4 linked regions of the Homo sapiens genome follow. The protein of the gene in region 1 interacts with the protein of each later gene in a pairwise test. Each region holds a gene or a part of one and is shown in the gene's direction. Other genes may lie near its edges.

Evidence for each region. The genes of interacting proteins can lie anywhere in the genome.
Region 2: the proteins of L3MBTL3 (region 1) and CRLF3 interact in binary tests that used the Homo sapiens proteins (3 or more experiments, as listed by UniProt).
Region 3: the proteins of L3MBTL3 (region 1) and NRF1 interact in binary tests that used the Homo sapiens proteins (3 or more experiments, as listed by UniProt).
Region 4: the proteins of L3MBTL3 (region 1) and TBC1D1 interact in binary tests that used the Homo sapiens proteins (3 or more experiments, as listed by UniProt).

Annotation. Positions count from the first base shown.
Region 1 is NC_000006.12:130,063,581-130,067,080, forward strand, and holds part of L3MBTL3 (lethal(3)malignant brain tumor-like protein 3), read left to right. Parts: intron 1-2,772; coding exon 2,773-2,908; intron 2,909-3,500. UniProt on the Homo sapiens protein: Is a negative regulator of Notch target genes expression, required for RBPJ-mediated transcriptional repression. It recruits KDM1A to Notch-responsive elements and promotes KDM1A-mediated H3K4me demethylation.
Region 2 is NC_000017.11:30,782,184-30,784,438, reverse strand, and holds the end of CRLF3 (cytokine receptor-like factor 3), read left to right. Parts: coding exon 1-252; 3' UTR 253-1,755; downstream 1,756-2,255. UniProt on the Homo sapiens protein: May play a role in the negative regulation of cell cycle progression.
Region 3 is NC_000007.14:129,709,220-129,712,719, forward strand, and holds part of NRF1 (nuclear respiratory factor 1), read left to right. Parts: coding exon 1-14; intron 15-1,154; coding exon 1,155-1,352; intron 1,353-2,255; coding exon 2,256-2,357; intron 2,358-3,500. UniProt on the Homo sapiens protein: Transcription factor that activates the expression of the EIF2S1 (EIF2-alpha) gene. Links the transcriptional modulation of key metabolic genes to cellular growth and development.
Region 4 is NC_000004.12:38,051,584-38,055,083, forward strand, and holds part of TBC1D1 (TBC1 domain family member 1), read left to right. Parts: intron 1-315; coding exon 316-477; intron 478-1,522; coding exon 1,523-1,642; intron 1,643-2,615; coding exon 2,616-2,755; intron 2,756-3,091; exon of another isoform or gene 3,092-3,167; coding exon of another isoform or gene 3,168-3,406; intron 3,407-3,500. Other genes in the region: uncharacterized protein LOC124900692, read right to left, coding at 3,168-3,406. UniProt on the Homo sapiens protein: May act as a GTPase-activating protein for Rab family protein(s). May play a role in the cell cycle and differentiation of various tissues.

The DNA of each region.
Region 1 (3,500 bases):
TAACCTTGTTTTATGTGTGTTTCTGTTTAAAGACACCTCATTTAATGTATATCGTTCATTCATTAAAAATTGAACTCACAAGTAAGAGCACTATCACTCCTGCCTGATGAAGCTTATCTAGCACAAGTATCTTCTCTGTAAGGCAACATCACAACCTTTTGGCACTTAGGGACACTAAACAACACCTCAGCACTATGTCAGGGGCCATTTTAAACAGTAACATCACCCAAGAAAAGCACAAAAATGTAGAATATGTGGCACTAAATGGACCACACAAAAGACACTTATTCCCAGTACGAGAACTGAAACAGGAAGGTAAAGCTCCTTCTTGATTGACTTCAGCTGGGAACATGCATGTTGAGTGACTCAAAAGTGTTGTCAGTCTGTGCATGTCCACGAACACTGCGAGTATTATTTTGGGGTTACAAATAAATTGTAGCAAGTAGATGACTTCACAAACGTGGAATACAGTATGTGAATAATGAAGACTGGCGGTATGTCATTTTTTCCTTCCCATCACCATTTACTAGACTTGGTTAGGTGGAGACAAGATGGATACCTGAAATGATAGAATGTCACCAGGCAAATATTTTGCAAAGGATATCAGGGCAGAAATTTTAAAATGTTGGCAAGAAAATGTTTTTTAAATGATTGCTAGGAAAGGAAGGCTTGGGGTGAGGAGAGCTGCTAGGGAGGAAGTAAAAGGATCAGTGTGAGACTAGAGTTTCTGTTGAGATTGAGGAAGAGGCATCTGGGGGTAACTGGGTTTGCAGACTGGAATAGGAGTATGTGTCCCAGGGTTGGATTTTTAAATTTAATACTAAGAAGCAGAGCAGTTCTTGTTGGGGACTAGATTCATGGGAGTGAGGGCTTGAAGTAGAGAGGAAGGGAGTCAAAATGCCAGGGTATTGGATAAGTCATCCATATGGATGACGAAAGTACTCAGATGGAAAGGAAGAGAATAAGCCAGGGCTAAGTGTTTGGGTGGTTAGCATGGGGGAAGAAGAGGAGGAGAGTTGCTTCAGCCATATGGCTCGAGCCTCGGCAGGGGAGAACTGGCCTAGGATCCATGGTGTGGTGGGAGGCAGCAACCCGTCCTGTGTCTATGGGAGGTAGAGTTGGGAACATGAGCACCCTTGGGGAAAGGCTTGAGAAGGACGAGCTAGGTATGACTGTGGGCAAGGAGGGTGAGGATGTAGGAGATTGTTTCTCAAAGCATAGCTTTCCGGTGAGCCTGAGATAGAGACTATGGGGAGAACAGAGAGAGCTTGGCTCAAGGGAGCAGAAGCTCAGAACGGTGTGCCCACAAGGAACTAGAGGCTGTAAATTACTATAGGGCTGAGCTCTTAGGATCGGCCAGATATAGCTGACTGTGAGAGAGAGGAGAGAAGCAGCCTTCTTTGCATGGGGTGGCTGTAGGGAGTGGGGGTAGCTCCTGCTTTACCTGAGAGATTGTATTTCCCAGGGATTCCAGTCTCAGCTGTATGGAGAGACTCTGTTCTCTCTGGGGGGAGTCAGCTTAGTTGTAAATTTGATGTATGTGGTATATCAATACATTCTAATTGAAAAAATGCTGATACATAAAAGAAAATATGAAAAGTCCATCATTCCCATTTTGCCCCTTCCTTTTCACTACCACTTCCTAGAAGAAATCATTATTAACATTTTGGCAAATATACCTCCGGACTTCTTTTTACTATGTGTTTACATATGTATGCATATGTGTGTATATTAATGTATGTATATAAATGCATATACTTATGTATATACACATAATACACATATGTATACATAATCATATACCCATAAATACATGTGGACCCCCACATGTCTAATTTTCTCATAAACTTAACTCATTCTGTGTTATGTGTTCTACCACTTGAATTTTAACTATATGTTTTAGAGAACTTTCCATGACAGTAACTGTACAGCTACCTCACTATTTGAGGATTAATTGCCCTGGCTCTGCACTCTGGTCTAAGTTCATCATTCAGGGTTCTGCAGGACAGACACTCCTGGAGCGGGTAGAGGTCTGGCGTGATACGTGTTTCTACTTGAACACATCTTCTTGTGTTAGTGGGAAGAAGTCTCAGGGGCTGAACCCTCTCTCTAAGAATCCAGGGCAGGGTATGATCCAACTCAGGTCTCGTAAGCCTATATGACCTTCTAAATCAGAATGTCTCTAAGTGGGGCCCTGTAGGCATATGTATGGCATGTGTTATACAGAGTACATTCTTACTAGCATTCTTAGGAGCCTGTCTCATCCAAGTAATAAACTAGGAGAGACGCTTTTCTTTCTTTCTTCCAACCCAGCTTTGGTGGAGAAAAAAAGCTTGACTTCTGTGCATATGCACCAGCTGTGGTCTGCAGCCTTCAGTGCAGGGCAGACTGTCCACTCTGGGGCCATGCTAGAGCTGAGTGTGCTGTGCTGGTGTGCCTTCCAGCTTACCCTGGGGACACATCTTGGTACAACATAGGGAGTGGAGAAAGGACCTGCAATTGTGGGATATTATGCTTTGCCCCCTATCCGTGTGGTTGTAATGTAACTGAGAATGTTGCCAGAATGCCACAGCTCAGCTCTTCCCACTTTAATAGCTTTTGTCTTTAGATTCTGGTTATTTGTTTAGTTGTTTTATTACTGTTAATGTGGGTGGTTTGATTAACATTAAGACTATATCATGCCTGGTGTCCATGTTTATTTTTGTGTATATATATATATATATGAATATTCTGAGTTAAAAAAAATAATTCAACCTATTTTACCTGTTTCAGGTTTGTGGATACCGGATAAAGCTTCACTTTGATGGGTATTCTGATTGCTATGACTTCTGGGTGAATGCAGACGCTCTGGATATCCACCCAGTTGGGTGGTGTGAGAAAACCGGCCACAAACTCCATCCTCCAAAAGGTTTTGTCACTTTTTGTTTGATATTTTAAATTCAGTAAAAACTCATTTTCTTACATGCTACATTAGAATTGTTAAGAATTCAGACTTTATGAAAATTCAGATAGGCACAAATTTAACCTTATTGTTTATGATGAAACCATGTTTATTAAAGTTAAAGAAATAAAAGCAGAATCCAGCCTAGGAAAATAAAGTATGTTCATATGCTTATTTTCATGTAAAATAACATTTGCATGATACTCAACTTTGACTACAAATAATGTTTACCTGCAAATTTCTATTATTAAATACATACATCTTTGAAAAAACTGATTTGAAAAATTAGTTTAAATTAGTTTATATAACTAAGTTTAGTGTTAACTGGTTTAAACTAATTTTTCAAATCAGTTTTTCATTATATAGAAAATCCTGAGAAATTATGCTTGACCGTATAGATCTTAATATTTAGGAGATTGGCAAGAAGACTGTAACACTAAAAATTGGCTTAGGTGGGGGGTTGAACTCATAGCAATTACTTTTCTTATATTTGAGTACTTTATATTATAGTCCCCCAGTGATTTTCCTATTTCATGTTTATATCAAAGTTCAAGAATAA
Region 2 (2,255 bases), on another chromosome or scaffold:
GTTTTTGTCAATGGAAAAGAAATGACAAATCAGTTACCCGCAGTTACTTCTGGGTCCACTGTCACGTTTGACATTGAAGCCGTGACTCTAGGAACCACCAGTAATAATGAAGGTGGACACTTCAAGCTTCGAGTAACTATAAGTTCAAATAATAGAGAAGTGGTTTTTGACTGGTTACTTGATCAGTCTTGTGGTTCTCTTTACTTTGGATGCTCATTTTTCTATCCTGGATGGAAAGTGTTAGTGTTTTAGATGTTTGGGTGCTTGGCTTTGGTTTTCAGGGTCTAACGTAGCTGTCCTCAGCCCAGCGTAGTTGTAATTGCTTTAAAAAAAAAGTTGAATTCATCTCTAACTTAGGCCATTGGAAAGTGTTTACTGGATTCATTTTGTAATATTTTAGCAAAAAGAGACTTCAATGTTGTGGACAAAATCATACAATTCAGTCAATTTTATTTTTAGCATACTGTTAAATATCACATCACAATAAAAATCAAATTGGCATTAAAAGTATAGAAGATATAGGAAGTTCTATACCCTTCCACTGTACTTCTCAAAGTTGGTTATTAGACCAGGAAAACTTAATGTAATATTATTTTTAAAATCATCTTAAAGGATCCAAGTCCATGTAACTCTTTAGAACAAGAGGAATAGGTCAGATAGAAGAAGCTGTGTAATGTATTAATACATCCGTTCATGTGCTGTCCACATGAATGTGTTGACTGTGCTCTCCATGTTCAGGTATTTGTAAGCAGTGTTGACTTTTATCCCCTCTTCAGTAATCTTTAAGTCCCCAAAACATTATAACTTTTTCTTTTTTTGTTGAGACGGAGTCTCACTCTTGTCACTCAGGCTGGAGTGCAGTGGTGTGATCTCAGTTCACTGCAACCTCTGCCTCCCACGTTCAAGCGATCCTCCTGCCTCAGGCTCCTGAGTAGCTGGGATTACAGGCGTCGGCCACCACACCTGGCTAATTTTTGTATTTTTAGTAGAGACAGGGTTTCACCATGTTGGCCAGGCTGGTCTTGAACTCCTGACCTCAGGTGTTCCACCCACCTCAGCCTTCCAAAGTGCTAGGATTACAGGTGTGAGCCACTGCAGTGGACCAATTTTTGTATTTTTTTAAATGCTTGACCAAGTGTCTAAAATAGGCAAGTAGTACCTTTTGTTCTTTCATTGCAATTTGATACAGTATAGGCTACAGTATTTTTACAGGGTAAAACTAGTTATGGCAGTAGTATGCACAGCAGTGTTAGCCATTTCATATGTATGTAATATGCACGTGTGTATCCAATCTGCCTGTGACATGCATTTTACTCTTTGCAGAGAATGAGCTGCAGTCCAGTTTAATGTCAGTTTAATAAGTGGTCTCTTTTTAGCAGAGCAAAAAAATATAGCGTAAATACTTATTTTTTTTAAAAACTTACTTAAATTTGTGTGTAAAATATTTATTTGAAGGACTTTAATATGTAAAAATAATTGTCTTCTATGCCACCCTACAGATTTTATTTTAATGTGAATTATTTTTTTCATTTCATTTTTACCAGTATAGTAAAAAAGTAGAAAAGCAAGTATGATATTTTTGTAAGATAATTTATTTGGGGATTCATGTTCCCTGTTAGACAATCATGACCTTTTCTACTTGTCTTTTTATATATAAGTAGTAGATTTCCACTTGTTTAGGGATTAAGAAGATGTTCTAGAATGTAGATACCTTGTCCAGCCATAGGAATCAAAATAAAAAACTAAAAAAGTTCAGTGTGTGTACTTTTTTCTTCTGTGAGATTTGGTGAATCCAGTTTTAACCTACTTTTCATTTGAAGGGAAAACAGGCTTCTTGTGGCTCCAGGCATTTTAGTAAGATATCACTGTGACTTGTGAAAGGGTATGTGTACCTTCTTGTACTTTCTTTTAAAAACTTTTTTAAAAATATTTTTTGTAGAGAATGAGGGTCTTGCTGTGTTGTCCAGACTGGTCTCAAACTCCTGGCCTCAAGCAGTCCTCCCCAGCCTTGGCCTTCCAAAGTGCTGGGATTATAGGCATGAGTGACCACACCCAGCTGGTTACTTGTACTTTCCTATATTCTGTGTCTGATACTGAGCATCTTGCCTGACACAATGTGTGCAGAATGAATGGTGGATCGAATGAGTCGTTTTCTCCAGATATCTTCATCTCATTCCTTTAATTCATCAAATATTTGTTGAATGTATTTATTTCTTAGCCTCTCTAGGGAAATGACATCTTAATTTATACCTATA
Region 3 (3,500 bases), on another chromosome or scaffold:
AGCAAAAGCAGAGGGTGAGAGTTCCTCTGACTGAGTTGCCTGGTTGCTTTTCCATCCTAAATTAACCACCTCAATTTTTGTCATTTCTACATCTTGTGCTAGAAAGTCTTTGTGTAATAGTTAAGCCTGTCCCTCCAAAGACTGATATTCTTTGATTTATAGCCTTTTCCATTTGTCGCTCCATCACTATACTATAAAGAGAAGACTGGGTTGAGTTGATGAATTTAAAATGTGTCTTCGGGGTTGCCTTTTGGAGCAGTTTTAATTTTATGAAGTGCTTGGGAAAGTCAAAGAAACTTGAAGTAAAAGTATTAATCACTTTGAACACTTAGAAATGCTTTTATTTCTGGTTACTAAAAATCATTGTTGAAAATGTAAATATGGAATTAGAGGGATATGAAGTCTGCCAGCTGAGTCTGCTAATAACAAAACTTTTACAAGAAAGACTAAACTACCTACCATTCCTTACTTTTTTTGCGTATTTATTTTTCTTTTTCTTTCTTTTCTTTCTTTTTTTTTTTTTTTTTTGAGACAGAGTCTCACTCTTGTTGCCCAGGCTGGAGTGCAATGACGTGACCTCGGCTCGCCGCAACCTCTGCCTCCCGGGTTCAAGCAATTCTTCTGTCTCAGCCTCCCGAGTAGTTGGGATTACAGGCATGCACCACCATGCCCAGCTAATTTTGTATTTTCAGTAGAGATGGGGTTTCTCCATGCTGGTCAGGCTGGTCTCGAACTCCCGACCTCAGGCCATCCGCCCTCCTCAGCCTCCCAAAGTGCTGGGATTACAGGCGTGAGCCACCATGCCTGGCCACGTATTTATTTTTCATTTAGCTTGGAAGTTTACTGAGAATCTTAATATGCCATTCTTGATCAGAATAATCTTTCTTTGCAAGAAGTTTAAGAGTTTGGCCTCAGGTTGGAATAGGGTGTAAACTAGACTTTGATCAAGAAGAAACCAATGAGAAGCCCTCTTTGATACTTCGTACACAGCTTCTTTCTACCAGAACCAGTCTGTGGGAGGTAATCCTAGGAGAGTCTAATAAGAGGTTTGGTTTGGTTTGATTTGATAAAGAAGTAGCTGCTTATTGCATATTGGGACTAAATAACCAAAGTTCTTTGTGGCTTAATGTGCTTTTCCGGTCATTTGGTGACAGGTTTCATGGACCCAGGCACTACGGACCATAGTTAAAAACTGTTATAAACAGCATGGGCGGGAAGACCTTTTGTATGCCTTTGAAGATCAGCAAACGCAAACACAGGCCACAGCCACACATAGTATAGCTCATCTTGTACCATCACAGACTGTAGTCCAGACTTTTAGTAACCCTGATGGCACTGTCTCACTTATCCAGGTGAGTAAACCTGAGGGCTACCAGACTGTGGCTTCTGAGATGGATCAGTGGGCACCTCACCTCAGACTAGGGAAAGTTTCCTTTGTGCGAACTCTTGTATGAACTTTATATAGCTCCCCAAGATCTTCCTACCTGAAATTGATTTCTGAAGAATAGTTTAAATTCTTTGCATTTGCTAAATACAGAGCTATGAGTAGCTTCCTGGACATTTCCAAAACAAAGCACTTTTAAAGGGCTCTTTTTTTTTTTGAGACAAGATCTCTCTCTGTCATCACAGCTCACTGCAGCCTCAACCTCCCGGGCTCAAGTGATTCTCCCTCCTCAGCCTCCCGAGTAGCTGGGACTACAGGTGTATGCCACCAGGCCTGGCTGAATTTTTTTTTTTTTTTTAAGTAGAGATGAGGTCTTGCTATGTTGCCCAGGCTGGTCTCAAACTCCTGAGCTCAAGTGATCCTCCTGCCTCGGCCTCCTAAAATGCTGGGATTACAGATGTGGGCCACCATGTCTGGCCTTAAAATGACTTCTGTTTTACAGTTTCACTCTCAGTGATCAGGGAATATTCCTTCTGAATGACCTCTTCTGAGGTAAAACACAATTTGTTGATTGGGAACCTCTAAAGTTCAGATTGAGGTGAGAATAGAAAGTTGGTTGACCAACACTGGGCATGGATGTGGCGATGTGATAGCTTTTCTCATATGGACTTATTTGGTTGAAGTAAAATTCTGAAACTCGTGATAGTCTCTGAACTATGATTTTAGTGAGCTATGATTTTAGATTTCACATCATAAGGCATATTCTTTGTTATCTGTGCTGAATTTGGGATTAAATGAGTCTCAGCTTCTGAGTAAAGAGGTGGAAGGATCCATCCACTGACACTTAACCACTTTCCATATTTTTCTTTAGGTTGGTACGGGGGCAACAGTAGCCACATTGGCTGATGCTTCAGAATTGCCAACCACGGTCACCGTTGCCCAAGTGAATTATTCTGCCGTGGCTGATGGAGAGGTAAGAAAGAGATTCCATCTGCATCTTCTTAAATACTTGAATGTATAATGAGGGAAAAGCAAGGGTCCAGAAGATGGAGTAGCCTGCATGTCTGCGGCACTCTTTCATTTAAACCTTTTAAAGAGCATGAGACCATGAAAGTTTTAGAAAGTGTCTTATGCTATGTGTATTAATTGTAACAATTAAGATTCATGGATTAGTATGTCAGGAACTTAGAATTTTACATTTGAATGTATAGCATTTGGTATTATACACAATACAAAGGGATTATCCCTTTACCATTTTTATGCTGTGAATCCCAAAGAATTTCATCTTTGGTCTTTATGAAAAAAAAATGTCACATTAAAACTGGAACTGACTAAGGGAAGCCTTCTTTGAAAGGATAAATATGTTTGCAAGTCAGTAACATGATTTATTACATCTTAAATATGCCTTTGAAAAGATTTCTTAGGAGAATTCTTCCTTACCAAAATTGGGATAATTATGGGACATTAACCTAAAGACAGCCAACCTTTATTGATCACTTGGTGGGCTAAACACTCAACCCTATGAAGTATAAAGTTCTGTTATCTTCACTTTAGAGATGAGAAAACCGAGACATAACAGAGCTTAGATGATTTGCCCAAAGTCCCATAGCAGTGTTGAAGCTGGATAATGCATTGAGAAAAACATTACCTAGGCTCTGAGCCATTGGTGAAGATGCAACAGTGAAGGAAGGGGTTTGTTACGTCACCATGAGTGTTTCCCTTGAAGATACTGATGTGGTGTGCTGAAGTTTGAAAAATAGCCAACAGATGTCAAAGAGCAGTATCAGAAATAAAGCTAAGAGTATTATCTCACCCTTGTTGAGAGCCATGGAGCATTTCCCCTTAGAACACCACAAAGTCACTTTCATTTGTGCCCCTCAGGAGAGGGGGAGAGCTGGCAAAGGCCACATGGCTGGGAGATGGAGGGAGAGTGCACCACAGGCTCCTTGGCCACCCTGCATGTGCCAAACCCCTGTGTAGCTGCAGCTGTGTGGAGTTGATTCGCACAGGATCCTTGCTGTCATGGGACTCCAGTCTAGTGGGGAAGAGAGATGTCTACGTGAATGAACTCTAGCCTTCCTGTAAGGGATGCTGCAAAGCGTATGTGCCTCCTTTC
Region 4 (3,500 bases), on another chromosome or scaffold:
GCTGTGATCGTGCTACCGCACTCCAGCCTGGGTGATAGAGTGAGACCTATTAAAAAAAAAAAGTATTGTTGGGAGCATAAACACGTGGGAAATGGTCAAGAACGGCCGTCAATATACTCTGTTTTTCACTGAAAACTACCTTTGCCAGAGAGCGAGCAGAGATGAGGAAAAGGAGTGGAAGAAGTCCTCCACTCTGATAGTGTTACTGGAACAACGAGACAAAAGCGGTGTGCTCCTTCCACCTGTTTGCTCCGTGTCCCTGTCGGCGCCCCCTCTCCTGCTAACCCCCCCGTGCTTTCTCTGATTGCTGTTTAGTGTGGATCCTTCACCTGTGGGTGAGTCTAAGCACCGCCCAGGTCAGTCTTCAGCTCCTGCTCCTCCACCTCGTCTTAACCCCTCCGCCTCCTCGCCAAACTTTTTTAAGTACCTAAAACATAATTCCAGTGGAGAACAAAGTGGGAATGCTGTGCCAAAGAGGTGAGCACACTCACGTGGCAAGTTTGGTGTTGTCTGTTTTCCTGGGGAGTTCACACTGATGAGGATGTGCTGAATGGGGGGAATGTCCATGCAGGAAGCAGAGCCACTGTGTGTGTGTGTGTGTGTGTGTGTGTGCGCGCGCGTGTGTGTCTTTGTTTATATTTTGTCTTATTTTCAGCTGTCATTTGAACCAAGTTAATTTTACTATTGATGACTTTTCTTAAGATTATTATGAAAACAGATCTTAATGGCAGATTGGTTTGTGTTTGTGTTTGTTTTTTTTTTTTTTGAGACAGGGTCTCACTCTGTTCCCCAGGCTGGAGTGCAGTGGCGTGATCTCGGCTCACTGCAGCTTCTGCCTTGTGGGTTCAAGCAGTTCTCCTGCCTCAGCCTCCCGAGTAGCTGGGACTACAGGCACACGCCACCATGCCCGGCTAATATTTTTATTTTTTTTTGTAGAGATGGGGTTTCACCATGTTGACCAGGTTGTTCTTGAACTCCTAACCTCAAGTGATCCGCCTGCCTCAGTCTCCCAAAGTGCTGGGATTACAGGTGTGAGCCACTGCACCCTGCTGCAAATTGTTTTTTTATACTTATTTTCACATTTCCTTGCCCTAGTGGACACTTACATGCATGCGTATATACACACACACGCGCGCGCGCGCGCGCACACACACACACACACACACACACACACACACACAGGATAACATCTGTGTTTGATCATGTACACTGCAATTTGTGCCATATCAGAAACTTCCTGATTGATTTAGGGGAATTATTTTTCCCAGTTTGAAAGGAAGAGTTATTTGGAAAATGGATGGATTTTCTTTTTTAAAAAATTATTGATCCCATTCATTTAAAATCAAATTTTATTGGTGAAAATGAAAATTAAATCTCATTCGTGAACTACTTTTAATTTCTTACCTAGTTTTCTTTTCTTAGCATTAGAACAAAAATGTTTCTTTTATTTTGAAGCTTATATTTTATACTTTGTGTTTTTATGTTTCTTTATCCTAAACTCTTTTTTCAACCAAACTCTTAGCATCTCCTACCGTAATGCCCTGCGGAAAAAACTTCATTCTTCTTCCTCTGTGCCAAATTTTCTAAAATTTCTGGCTCCTGTAGATGAAAATAACACCTCTGATTTTATGAACACAAAAAGGTAGGGCTTAATTTAGATATATCAAGCCTGGGTGTTACTAAGTGTTGAATATCATTAGATATACAAGGGTGTTTTAATTACTATTTTGCCATTTAAAAAATCATTTCAGCTAAATCTGTTGTATCTTCTTTCTTATACTTTTTTCTTACTGAATGCCATTTTTAAAAATGTGCAACCAACCTGTTCTCTAGTTTTGACGAGGATTAGTTTAAGTGTTATCTTAAGAAAAGTCTTTGCCAAGTCTCTGAGACCAGTGTTTCTGGTTAGTGAGCATATGTCTGTTTCAAATCAGGATGTCTGATCTGTTCAGGACGTCTAATCTGTAAGTTGAGGGGATTGCTTACTTACAGGTACATAACTTGGGTATAAATTGGAAGGGCCTTCTCAGGTTGTCCTGTGAATAGGAGAAAACATTTATGATTGTGTTTATATATTGATAACTGTATTTTGTAGTTTAAAAAATACACACGTTAAAACAATTATCATCATCAAGTGACTGCATAGTTATTGCCTTGCTGGTTCTGTGTAATTAAATTGCAAGTTTTTTCATTTTTTGTGGGAATCCTTGGAGACATGGGCCTGTGCTGAGCAGATATTCCCATGCACAGAAGAGGGCAGAATGGGGCCCCTTGGCATCACCCCCTTTCCCCCTTTAGGCAGTTTCTCTTTATCAAAGTGGCACCAAGAGAGGCCCAATTGGAACTATGATATGTGGAACATGTTTCTTAATCTCTGTTACAATCGAAATCACTTAAGGGCATGTAATCTTTCTCTTTTCATGAAAAGAATTCTGTAAGAAAGCAGTTCTTTAGGAATGATGACCCACTGTGAGCTTGATATAACTTCTGTGATTGATTATTTGTTTATACAAAGATAGTTGATAATTTAGTGATTTGTTTAAAAAAATGTTAAGCTAACAAAATCCCGTGAATTCCTCCCCACTAGTCATAAATCAATCATCTTATAATTTTAGGGACTTTGAATCCAAAGCAAACCATCTTGGTGATTCTGGTGGGACTCCTGTGAAGACCCGGAGGCATTCCTGGAGGCAGCAGATATTCCTCCGAGTAGCCACCCCGCAGAAGGCGTGCGATTCTTCCAGCAGATATGAAGGTAAGGCCGGTACCTGAAATGAAACCTCAAAGAGAGCACGCTGACAGAGGACCCTGGGAGCCCCATCATATTGGTAAGAAAGCAGAGCGCCGTCCTCTTCAGTATTGGCAGGTCTGAGGCAATCACAAAGGTAACTAGGGAGGGAATTTAGAGGTTACCCTCCATTTCTTAGGGAAGGAATTTAAAGCTAATTTAGGGTAACCTCTCCATAAACAGGAGCAGAGCTCTGATGTTTAGAGTGGTCACAGTGTTAACCAGCGGTGAATCCAGACAGGTCTGCGGCAACCTCACTTCTTGCCTCCTAGGACATAAGGCAAAAGGAGAGACTGAGGCAAGTTTTAGAGCAGCAGTGAAAGTTTATTAAAAACTTCAGAGCAGGAATGAAAGGACGTCAAGTACACTTTGAAGGTGGTTAGGCGGGCAACTTGAGAGATGAAGTGTGAGATTTGGCCTTTTGACCTGGGGTTTTATATGCTGCCATACTTCCGGGGTCTTGCGTTCCTTCTTCTCTGATTCTTCCCTTGGGGTGGGCTGTCCGCATGTGCATTGGCGTGCTAGCACACGGGGGTTGTGGGGGAGCGTGCGCAGGGTGTTTACTGGAGTTGTAGGCGTGCTCACTTGAGGCGTTCTTCCCTGTCCAGTCTAGCATTCCTAGAGGAACGTCATGCACCAGGTAAATTCCGCCATGTTGCCTCTTAATGCGCATGCTTGAGCCCACTCGCCCAGCTCCCGAGATCTTATTGGG